2 separate regions of the Homo sapiens genome follow, and region 2 is linked to region 1. The links come from fine-mapping of genetic effects on gene expression. Tissue or cell type: monocytes after LPS. Region 1 holds a variant in brackets; the other region holds the start of a gene. All regions are shown on one strand. Distances are between the middles of the regions.

Evidence for each region. PIP is the estimated chance that this variant, and not a neighbour inherited with it, causes the effect.
Region 2: ETFBKMT starts here. The variant in region 1 is fine-mapped to the expression of ETFBKMT in monocytes after LPS (Fairfax 2014, PIP 0.95).

The regions. Positions count from the first base shown.
Region 1 is chr12:30,783,766-30,789,492 of GRCh38, reverse strand. No RefSeq gene overlaps it. Among named protein-coding and RNA genes, the nearest start is that of LINC00941, 9.1 kb to the left of the region's middle. RefSeq lists an enhancer at 3,503-4,004. The variant T/G (reference allele first, on the strand shown) is at 3,505.
Region 2 is chr12:31,656,517-31,662,243 of GRCh38, reverse strand. It overlaps ETFBKMT (electron transfer flavoprotein subunit beta lysine methyltransferase), which reads right to left and starts at 2,556. Exons shown (of 4, transcript NM_001135863.2): 1 at 2,455-2,556; 2 at 1-403. The coding sequence starts at 290. RefSeq lists enhancers at 42-161, 2,609-2,768, 2,686-3,187 and a silencer at 2,889-3,198.

The DNA.
Region 1 (5,727 bases):
GTGCAATCTTCTTTACTCAGTCTACTGATTCAAATGCCAATGTCTTACGGAAATATCCTCAAAGATACACTGAGAAATAATATTATACCTGCTATGCGGGCATCCCTCAGCCTCATGAAGTTGACATTAAAAAATTAACTGTCACACCCTCACTTTTGCCAAATTCCATGTATTAGAAGCAAGTCATTAGGCTCAGCCCACACTCTAGGGGAAGGAATTATACAAGGGCTGATCACCAAGAGGTGGAGACCACTGGGAGCTATGTCTGAAGCTGTCTATCACAGGTATGTGGGCACTATCCTAAAATGCTTTACATGTCTTAAGTCACATAATCCTTCCAGCACAGCTTAAGATAGATATGCTATTATTGACTCAATTTCACAAATGAGATATCAAGAAGTAAAGTAACTTGCCTGTGGTCAAACAGCTAAAGTCAGTGGGGTTTGGAGATTTGAACCTAAGCTGTCTTGGTTCAGCATCTGTATTCTTAACCTGTTTGCTGCACTATTTGAAATGGAGGCGTCCAGTAAGAGCTGGAATCTGGACTTCTTGGGAGAGGATTGGACTGGCAAAAGAGATTGGGAGGATGAAATTAACGAATCCTAGAAGAATCACAACTGATTTTCAATTTGTTTCTCTTTTGCACCCAGACTTCTCTCCAGTGCCAAGGAGATAACTTTTCTCCTAGCATCTTTGTAACAGTGAAAAGGAGGCCTAGCTCAACAAACTCCATTTTGCTCCTAACACCCCCCTTCCCCCTCCAGGTGGTACCTTTTAGATTAACTAATTTTTATTATCTCTGCATGAAGGCCAAGAAAATGATATGATGGAAGGAATTTAGTTTGTAGTTTAACTTTAAAGCAAGGATAATAGGATGCTAGTTCCTTCCCAAAACTAACCTCCAAGGAGGTAAGGAGTGTGTACATACAAGGAACAATGTTATTTTAAAGATTTATGGGATCCTAGCTTTCACTCGGTATATGAAAAAATAAAATAATAATAAGAAATATATAATTAAAGATTTATAGGAGCATTGTGACCTGACCAAGGACAAAGAAGTTTTCCAACTCCCTCTCAGATGCTCTCTGCTGCCCAGATGCCTATAACCATCAGTCACCTCTTGAACTCCATCTCCTTCTACCCTCTTCCCTTAACAATAAAGGGACCGGAAATGCACATTGCCTTAAGACAGTTCTTTAGGACATTAGTCCATCATCTTCTCGGTTGAGCAGATAAACTGAGTTATTGCCCTCTTGCCCCAACACCTTGTCTCGTGACTTATTGACTGTCCTGCAGTGAGCAATACCAGCTTAGACTCCACTACATTATCTTGTAGTATTCATCTGTTCCCTTACTTTTGACAAGTGTTTACTGACTACCAACTATGTGTAAGGAAAGTGCTAGATCCTAGGGAATATATTTTTAGCTCTCTGGATACAGAAGATGAAATTTAGTTTGAGAAGTTATTGAACAACTTGTTCAAAACATCTACTTAACTGTCATCTATTTCAACTTGAACTGCCTTTCTATTAAATGTACCACTATTAAATGTTGTGATGGTACTAGAAAATCAGCAATTTGTAAAGCATTTGCACAAATTCTAACAAGGCTTACCACTTCGGCTTTTTCTATTATCTACTTAGCAATCAAAGCAACGCCTTAATTTAACGTATGATATTGAAAATAATTTTACAATATTTCCAATTAAGTTAATTTTCACATTGCTTTTGTGCTCTTTGTCATCACATGGAGAATGATGAATTCTATTTTACATTTCATTAGTGAACATAAGGTGTGTTTTTCCATTTGGGTCACTATTAGCTCTCTATTATCTAATTTCAAAAATACTGAGTTCAGTACCCAATCTACAAATTATACAGTAACCACTTCTCTAAATGAACCACAATTTAGAGTTAAGCTCACAAGCCATTTCTTCATTTGTGCAAATGTGTAACAAGCCAAAGCTTAATGGTTCATTTCAGTTAAGTAGGTTGCACAAAATTTAGAAGTTTGTTAGTAAGAAATGTGACCTAGAACCATTATGGAAATGAAGAAAAGATGAAATTACACAGTTTAGACCCATATTATCCAACTCCTAATTTAGTCAGAGATTATTGAAGTGACAACTCTCCTTTTTATGAAATAAAATACTTGAAAAAATAAGAACATTGTTCTGCTTTTAATCTCTGCTAAATAGACAGTTAGTTACCAGGAGAAATATGTTGTAAAAACCAGCCTATGAAGAATATCAGGAAAGAAAGTAATGTTACCTGGAAAATCTAACCTACTAAATTTTGATAAGCATATGAGCCACCAATCTAGTTACATTGCCAGGAAATTCTGATAAAAGGCAACTATTAATTTCTAAAGGATAAATCTGACAGAATCTCAGGATAATTCCATTTGGACTCCTTATTTTTTATTATTATTATTATCTTTTTTTTTTTTTTTAAATTTATTTATTTTTTTTTTTGAGACGGAGTCTCGCTCTGTCGCCCAGGCTGGAGTGCAGTGGCGGGATCTCGGCTCACTGCAAGCTCCGCCTCCCGGGTTCACGCCATTCTCCTGCCTCAGCCTCCCAAGTAGCTGGGACTACAGGCGCCCGCCACTACGCCCGGCTAATTTTTTTGTATTTTTAGTAGAGACGGGGTTTCACCGTTTTAGCCGGGATGGTCTCGATCTCTTGACCTCGTGATCCACCCGCCTCGGCCTCCCAAAGTGGGACTCCTTATTTTTTTTTAAGTTTTTGTGCTATTGCTATGGAAATATTCTGATGATTTACATGGTTGTGCTAGAGTTTTTTAATTTGTCTATTAGAATTGTGAGAACTTCCTTTACAAAAGTGCTCATTTTTATGTAGCTAAGAGACCAGTACAGATCTTCTCCAAAGAATATCATCATCACAAATTAAATAAAAACTTAGCATACAAAAGGATTCACATTTTACTGCTGAAAGTGCCTCCGGATCTAAATCAGCCCATCAATCAAGGCTTTCTTAGACACTGACTAAATGTTTAGCATAATCCTGAGTACTCTGGGGCTGTGGAACTCTGCATCTGCTGAACGCCAGGATCTAATGGGGAGCTTTATCAAATAAACAGGTTCCCGGTGGCTCCACTTCTGAAGATTCAAATTGGTGGCTTCTGGCATGAGGCTCTTGGGAATCTGGTTTTTTTGTTTGTTTGTTTGTTTTTCTTTTTTTGTCTTGTTTTGTTTTTAACATCACAGGTGATTCTGATGATTAGTCAGGACTGGGAACCATACCTGCTGTGGTTCCCAAAATCTGGTCCCTGGACCCACATTATCTGCATCACCTAGCAACTTATTAGAAATGCAAATTCTCAGGGCTGTGAATGGAAAATAAAAATCTCGGGACCCCGAACTCACTATGCCAAAGGGAAAGTGAAGCTTGGGAACTGAGTCACACAAAAGCAATCAAACTGCCTTCCTTTTTGTTCCCAACCAAATAGCTGCAAAATAGAAGGTCACATATCTTCCCAGGGG[T/G]CCTCCCTCACAAATTGCTCACAAGGAAATTCCTCGTGGACTCCACATCTTTCAGAATACATATCCCTCCTATAAACTTGCCCTAAAATAGAGTGCTGTTGAATCTTACCCTGACAATGCAAATTAACAGCTTATTTTCACAGGTAAGGGCCAAACATAAGACTAGAAATTCCTCCACCCACCCCAAACAAATGCATAATTGAGTTCTTCCTCTACTCTATGCTTACTTTATCTTATGTAAAATGTAGATATACGCAGCATGAGAAGAATGCATAATTGACTTTAACCCCACCACTCTCTTTTCACATGTAAAATGTGGATTCAGTGAGTAGTTTTTAAGGGCTAATAGAAGCCTCACAAGAATGTAAACATGTTACTGCCTACACCCAGCCTCTTTTTTTTTCTCCTTCCTCTTCTACCTGCTCTTTCCTCTTTAAATATTGAAGTCCTCAAAACCCTCTTTGGAAAAAGTACAGGCCGCAGATTCTACTGTAACTTGTGTTTCTTTTTCCCTGGCCACATCCTCAACCTTGGCAAAACAAACCTCTAACTCGATTGAGATCTGCCTCAGCCACTTTTTGGTTCACAGGCTCTATTCAGACCCACTAAATCATAGACTCTTGAAGTAGGGATTAACAATCTCTGTTTTATCAAGCCCTCCAGGTGATTTTTATGTTTGATACAGTTAAAGAATCATTTCAGATTTTTAATCTACTGAGCTTAATGACCTTTTCTTCATATGAAGATTGATGTCAAAGTTCTTTCTTTCTTTGCTGCAGAGCTAAGGAAATAGGACTTACTTTTTTCTCTTCGATTACCTAGCCAGCCACTATACCCTTCAGGGTTCTCTTATTCTTAATATGCCTGAAAAAGTGTGGAGAGGAAATAGCTTTCTCAACTTCCCACTTCCTTGCTGCTTGGGAAGACAAGAATATATGTAGACAGGCCCTTCTGCTTCCAAGGAAAATAGGAAGGAGATAACAAATGATAACCAATATGAAGATGTGTCAGAAGTTCTGGAATTTTAAAATGACTTTCTGCCCTGGTCTTGTACCCCCGGTTTTTATTCCTGATTATGGAGCTCACACCCTCCCCACTTTCTCACTCCTCCTTTAGCAAACCCTTATGACTCTTCACACCAATTCAAGGTCTAAAAAGAAAATACAGCCAGCCAGAGATGGCCTCTTTCAGCATAAATTTTATTTTTACTTGTTAATGGAAATCTCCCTAAAACAAAATTGTAAGAGTTAAAGAAACAGGAAAGAGACACGAAATGTGGTTTGACAGTAAAGACAGGTTTACTTTTGATAAAACCTGAGAGGGGCTTCTGGCTGACTTTGGTTAGGAGCACTTTCTCTTACAGACTAAGAGAACATATTGGTTTTAGGGTAAGGGGGCTTATTAGAAGCTTGGAATGTTTCTGTGTGAGGGACAAGTTTTATGGTGGGGTTGGAATGTCTCTGGGAGGAGGGGAGTTTATCTTGGGGCAGACATCTTTCTGGCTTGGAGTGGGGTTATCTCGGAGCTGGCATCTTCCTGGCTGGCGGGGGGTTATCTCGGGGCTGGCAAGTCTCTGATTGGGGAGGAGTTTGGAATGTTTCTGGTTGGAGATGTTATTTGTGGTTATTGTGGTTTATGCTGACCTTAGCCATTAGGCTGATACCCTTTGGATTTAGGCGTTTTTTTTTTATTAAGGTGAACTTTAGAATGAGGGGCTTGTCCAAGATGGTGATGCTCCTGCTCTGTCAAAAATTTGTTTACTGTCATCTGGATTTTTGTTGATGGATCATTTAGTATTATTACAATGAACATTAACTGTTATATACTGCAACAAACAATGATGTCATGGACTTTAAAGACTGAAGATGTGTTTAGCCATTAAATGATCTAAGATGTCTAGGATTTTATTTCTTATATTTATATTTCTTTCTTTTCACTACCAAGTGATCAGAAAATCTGCCTAAATACCTTTTCCAATATTAGTTTTTACTGCTTTGAATTTTTTGCTTTTAATTTGTGAGGGCTGGGAAACCAGAAAATACGTTTGTTAAAATTGTGTTTTAAATGAGTACAGCAGATTAAGTTGTGTGATACTCAATGCTGATGAGGTTGTATTAAAGTTAGAACTTCCTGATTATTGTTTGAAAGCATTAATGTAATCCTTTGAGAAAGCAATTTGGCAACATATAACAAGATCCTTAAAATATTTATATTCTTTAATAT
Region 2 (5,727 bases), 870 kb before region 1:
CAGTAGATTGCCCAGTAAGGATCACTGTGGGGCCACAGGTCAGCTCTCTCCCACCAGAATTTGCATCTGGGGGTCAAAAGCCGCAACTGGATTTCAGGGGTGAGGCTACCACTGCTGGTGACTTCAGTGTTCTCCTCCAGGAAAGCCTTTATCTCAGGGTCCAAAAAGCTTCCAGCTCCTCTCCAGGGACACTGGCCACAGGGAAACAAGAGAAGACCACTGCTTCGCAGAGCCTGCAAGAGGAGACCACAGTGGTTCCTGTGTGCTTTCCAACCTAGACTCAAAGCCATCAGTCCTTTCCCCAAACACAGGTTCTGTCAATGTTCTGTTGATAATAGCTGCTTCTCAAGGAGAATGAACAAGGGTGTGTCTCCCAACTTGATCTCAACCGGAACCTCTGACTCTGAAAAAAAAAAGAAAAGTAATACTGAGAATTCTGAGGAAGAGCAACATTTCTAGATCCTATTACATAATAAGAAAATATTGGCCGGGCGCGGTGGCTCACGCCTGTAATCCCTGCACTTTGGGAGGCCAAGGCGGGTGGATCACGAGGTCAGGTGTTCAAGACCAGTGTGGCCATCATGGTGAAACCCTGTCTCTACTAAAAATACAAAAAATTAGCCAGGCGTGGTGGCGGGTACCTGTAATCTCACTACTTGAGAATTGCTTGAACCCGGGAGGCGGAGGTTGCAGTGTGCCGAGATCGCACCATTGCATTCCAGCCTGGGCAACAAGAGCAAAACTCCGTCTCATAAAAAAAAAAAAGAAATAAAATATTACAGTGTATATTACTGTATCTGATGATTCACATGTGCAAGTTCATTTCAGATGAAAGCTTTGGTGCATCAATTGGGAAAATCCAATCTTTTTAAATGATACTTTTCACAAGAGAATCCTTTTAGTAATTTAACACAACAAATATACAAGCATTTGATTTTGAAAGAATCCTCAAGAAAATGCCTCTTACAGGAAATCAGCCATACAGTCATCCTTCAGTATCCTCAAGTGATTGGTTCCGGTATCCCCTGCTTCCAGGATACCACAATCAGAGGATACTCAAGTCCCTTATATAAAATGGCATCATATTTGTATATAAACTAGGCATATGCTGTGGTATACTTTACTTTAAATCATCTCTGGATGACTCATAATACTTAATACAACGTAAATGCTATATAAGTAGTTGTTACACTATTTTTGTGTTATTTTTATTGTTGTAATTTTATATTGCTATATTGTTATATTGTGGGCCAACTGTACCTTTAAAGTTCTTTCATAAATTTAACAAAGTAGGCATGCTTGGTAACTGTGAACAAAATAACAGAAGTCTTCTGTCTTCAGGAAGCTTATATTCTAGTGGTGGGATAAAGCAGTTAACAGGGCAAACACAGTTTTTGCCTTTATGAAGTCTAGCCAAGAGTTCTGGGGGTTAATGAATTTATAATTGTCTGTGGGCAGAGATATATTAATACAAATTATATTGACTACTCTATTTCATTAAAGATTGTTGTATCATAAAACAATGCAATCAAGATTCAGGTTTTTTCCTTTAAAAATACTGTATGCATTTAATTGTAATAAAAGAACATCAACTCCTAAATCTCTTTCTGTAAAAGTATCTGATGGTTCGATTTTACCAAGCCTAAACTGAAAAGATTTGCTCCAACAGAAAAACACCTGTGCAATTGATCACTAAGATTTGTTTAAAAATATATATATATAGAAAAACACCCGGATTAGAATAAATGAGAATGAGGAACAACTTAAACACAACTTATACACCCAGTTGTTTGGGGACCTCGGATCTCTTCTGCATAAATGTTTTAAATGGTCTTAAATCCACTAAAGTATTTAGGGGTCAAAAATCCAAATCCCCACAAGGGGCTGGACATCATAAATGAGTGATGCAGGCTGGCTGTAAAATAACAGAGGGGCTGTGGCAAGCTGGAGACTGTTTTCAAACAGTTCAAAAAGGCTAGGCAGGACATGCTGCCAGATCCTCCGATTTCTCAAAATCATCAAAAAAATCTAGATATTGACACATTAGCTTCCACCTTTTTTTTTTTTTTTTTTTTTTTTTTTGAGACAGAGTCTCTGTTGCCCAGGCTGGAGTGCAGTGGCGTGATCTCGGCTCACTGCAACCTCCGACTCCCAGGTTCAAGCGATTCTCCTACCTCAGCCTCCCGAGTCCTGGGATTACAGGGGCGTGCCACCACGCCCGGCTAATTTTTGTATTTTTTTTTTTTTTTTTTTTTTTAGTAGAGACGAGGTTTCGCCATGTTGGCCAGACTGGTCTGGAACTCCTGACCTGAAGCGATCCTCCTGCCTCGACCTCCCAAAGTGCTGGGATTACAGGCGCGAGCCACCACGCCCGGCCAGCTTCGGCTTGTAAACATCAGCAACTCATTCAAATATCAAAACACAGGGCAGGTCAAAATGCATGTCAGGTCATACATAGCCTGTGAACTCAGCGTAGACTTCCAGTGGGTGTTAGTTACCCCACATCAGTGTCCTGGGATCGTAGGGGTCTCTCAGGGCCTGGTATCCCACTAGACTAATTGTTAAGCAGTACTAGGCTGTCACTTGAATCACACAACGCAGCCTAAGTTTAAAGGTAACGCAGAGCAAATAGAGATTATTTGGGATTTGGACCCCATGTCATTTAGATCGGCGCTTCCCTCTCCCGTCCCAGCACCGATGAGGCATGGGTTATGAAGTATGTGACTGTGGTGACCACTTGGTATTTCTCTTAATGAGAAGGAGAGCTGATGGGATGAAAAGAGTTACGTTCCACAACGGGTAGACGGCGGCGTCATTTTCCTCCAGAGGCGGGGTGGAGTCGATCTTAAAGGGGCAGGCACCGTCCTCCCTGTCTCCTTACCTAGCTTTGCTGACACCGCCCTCGGAAGTAAAGCATAGGGCTCGCCTGTCACTCGCCCTGGCGACTGTTCCCGCTCATGCTTTACATTTCCGGGGTCCCGCTACCAAAACTGAGCCACGCTCTAGCAGAGCGCCGCGGCCCGGCAGGGGGCGGGACGGACGGCGGCCCCTCGCGGCCCCGCCCTTTTTCCCAGCAGCGCTTTCTTTCTCCTCCACTTTCTTAAAGGGACAGAAGCGCGAAACCAAAGGGCGCCCTGACCTCACCTGGAAAATAAGGGAACGTTAAATCTGTGTGCAATGTTTGTAGAATTTTGATTCCTAAAAAGTTCATTCTGAAACTATGCAACACCTACTATGTGCCAGTCGCACTTCCAGGCACCGGGCATAGAGTGGTGAGCAAAATAGACACCGTATATTTAAAAAAAAAAAAAAAAAAAGACACAGTATAAGCCCTCTGTGCTGCCTACATTCAACTGCGATTAAATCATAATGAATGTCCTTTCTTTTCTAATAATTCATAAATTCACTAGCAATTTATTTGCAGCCTATATCACTCGAGTCTGGATCTACATATATCCACCTTTCAACTGGACCCACATCCCACTGGCCCCTCAACTCAACACTCAAAGTTAACTCACCATCTGACCTGACAACAATTAAAACCTGCTCTGGCGTGCTAGAGGGGGGAAAACGGTCCAAAACTAAGAAACAGGAAAATCGTGTTTCTGCATTTTAGTTTGCAGTTTGAGAAATGCACTGGCACCTGCCTGTTCAAAATTAGAATTTGTCGCTTGGGTTCTGCGCTCCTGCCATGGGTGTGACAGCTTTCTGTCTTTCCATGTAAACTGGAATCTTTAGGAACTACTACAAGGAAAGGAAACTTTGTGCTTCCAGTCAACAGCCCCAGATGCAGCCTTATCATTTCTTTCTTAGTTGAATGGTGTATTTGCTACATTCTTGTTGATAAGCTATACACCTTGCATTTCACAGTATTCTGCCTTAGATTTCCTGTGTAATAACTGATATAATGTGTTTATGAACTGCATTCATCCACTTATGAGCTGCTTTTTTCTTAATTAGTTGCTGATGTAAACGCTTGTTTTCTCAACTATAACTTTTCATTACCACACACTCTCCGATTCTCCTGCTAGCAGTGAACCTTGATCCATGTTCAAGATCAATTTCTATAAGAAATATTGTTTTTAACCAGCTTCGGTGTTCTATCCCAATTAATAGTTTGAACATCCCAGTCACTGCCCAAGAAACCAGAACGAACAGGCTAACCTAACATTTTTACAAAAGAGGGTTGGTTCCTGGAAAAAAGCTTGGTAGTCATCACTGAAGATGCATTTAATAATGTTTGGATAACTCATTCAAAACTTGCAACTTGGCTGAAGGGACTGCAACATGCCTTTCCTGTCCCATAATGGATTTAAAACTGGTCCAGTTCTTTCTATCCCTCCTGCCATTGCCTTAGTTTGGCATTATAATGGCTTGCCTGGGTTCCTATAACTTGTCTATCTCTAATTCTGCCTTCCTTAAAACTATTCTTTTTTTTTTTTTTTTTTTTTTGAGATGAAGTCTTGCTCTGTCGCCCAGGCTGGAGTGCAGTGGCATGATCTCGGCTCATTGTAACCTCTGCCTCCTGGGTTCAAGCCATTCTCCTGCCTCAGCTTCCCCAGTAGCTGGGATTATAGGCGCACACCACCACACCCAGCTAATTTTTGTGTTTTTAGTAGAGACGGGGTTTCACCATGTTGGTCAGGCTGGTGCCCAACTTTTGACCTCGTGATCCGCCCACCTCGGCCTCCCAAAGTGTTGGGATTACAGGTGTGAGCCACTGCGACCGGCCAAGATTATTCTTTATATTGCAGCTTAAATGATTTTTTTCTGAAACTTAGATTCCATAGTCTAGAAAAGGCCTGCCCTTCCTTTAGTCCCAGACAAAGCATGAAAAACAGGGATATATGGATTTTCTTTTCTGTTGTTTGGTGTTGATGCATTGTAATGTCTTAATAGAAAGGACCGTCTAGATTTTAACAAAATTGACCCACATACATCCAAGCAGACTTGTGAACTGATAACAATTTGAGCTGTTGTCTATCCTTGTGATTTTTTTACTTTAAATACCTGCCCTACATTTTTGTTTACAAAGCCAGTTCTCTAATAATCGGTCCCTCTTGCAGGTGCAAGTAAAAAATTCTATTCCCTACACAACTTTGTCTTTAAGGGTTTTTTGGTTTTTCAACAAGTTATTCAATTACACTTATTAACTGTATGATCTTGGACACATTGCTAAACCTTCTTAATAATCAGTTTCTTCATCTGTAAAATAGTGATGATAGTAATAATGTTTTAGGAAGATTTAATAAGATAAAAGCACATCTTGTTTAGCCCAGTTCCTGGCATGTAGTAAATGCTTGCTAAGTATGCTATTACAGTGATGATCATTATTAGAAACACAGAGATAGTGTTGATGAGCAGCAGATCAGGTTTTCAGTTAAAGGTGAGAGGATCAAACTTGAATTTTAGAAAAATGTTTTATGCTGCAGGTAGCAAAGAGTTAAAGGCGGGGCAAGACTGAAGACAAGGAAACCGCCATTGGAGGATATTATGGTAATCCAAGCAAACAATAATGGAGACAGAACTAAGGTAACTGCGATAGGGATGGAAAGAATTGGAACATTTGAAAATGATTAAGGATGAGCTATTAGCAGGACTTGGAGACTAATTAAATACACTCGTTTAACCGTAATGCTAGCCAATCTAAGGGCAAGATGGTTTCTCTTGCTCCACTCGATTGGCCTGTGCTGTTCATCAGCAGGCTATCTGTGTTCTCCCTTGCTT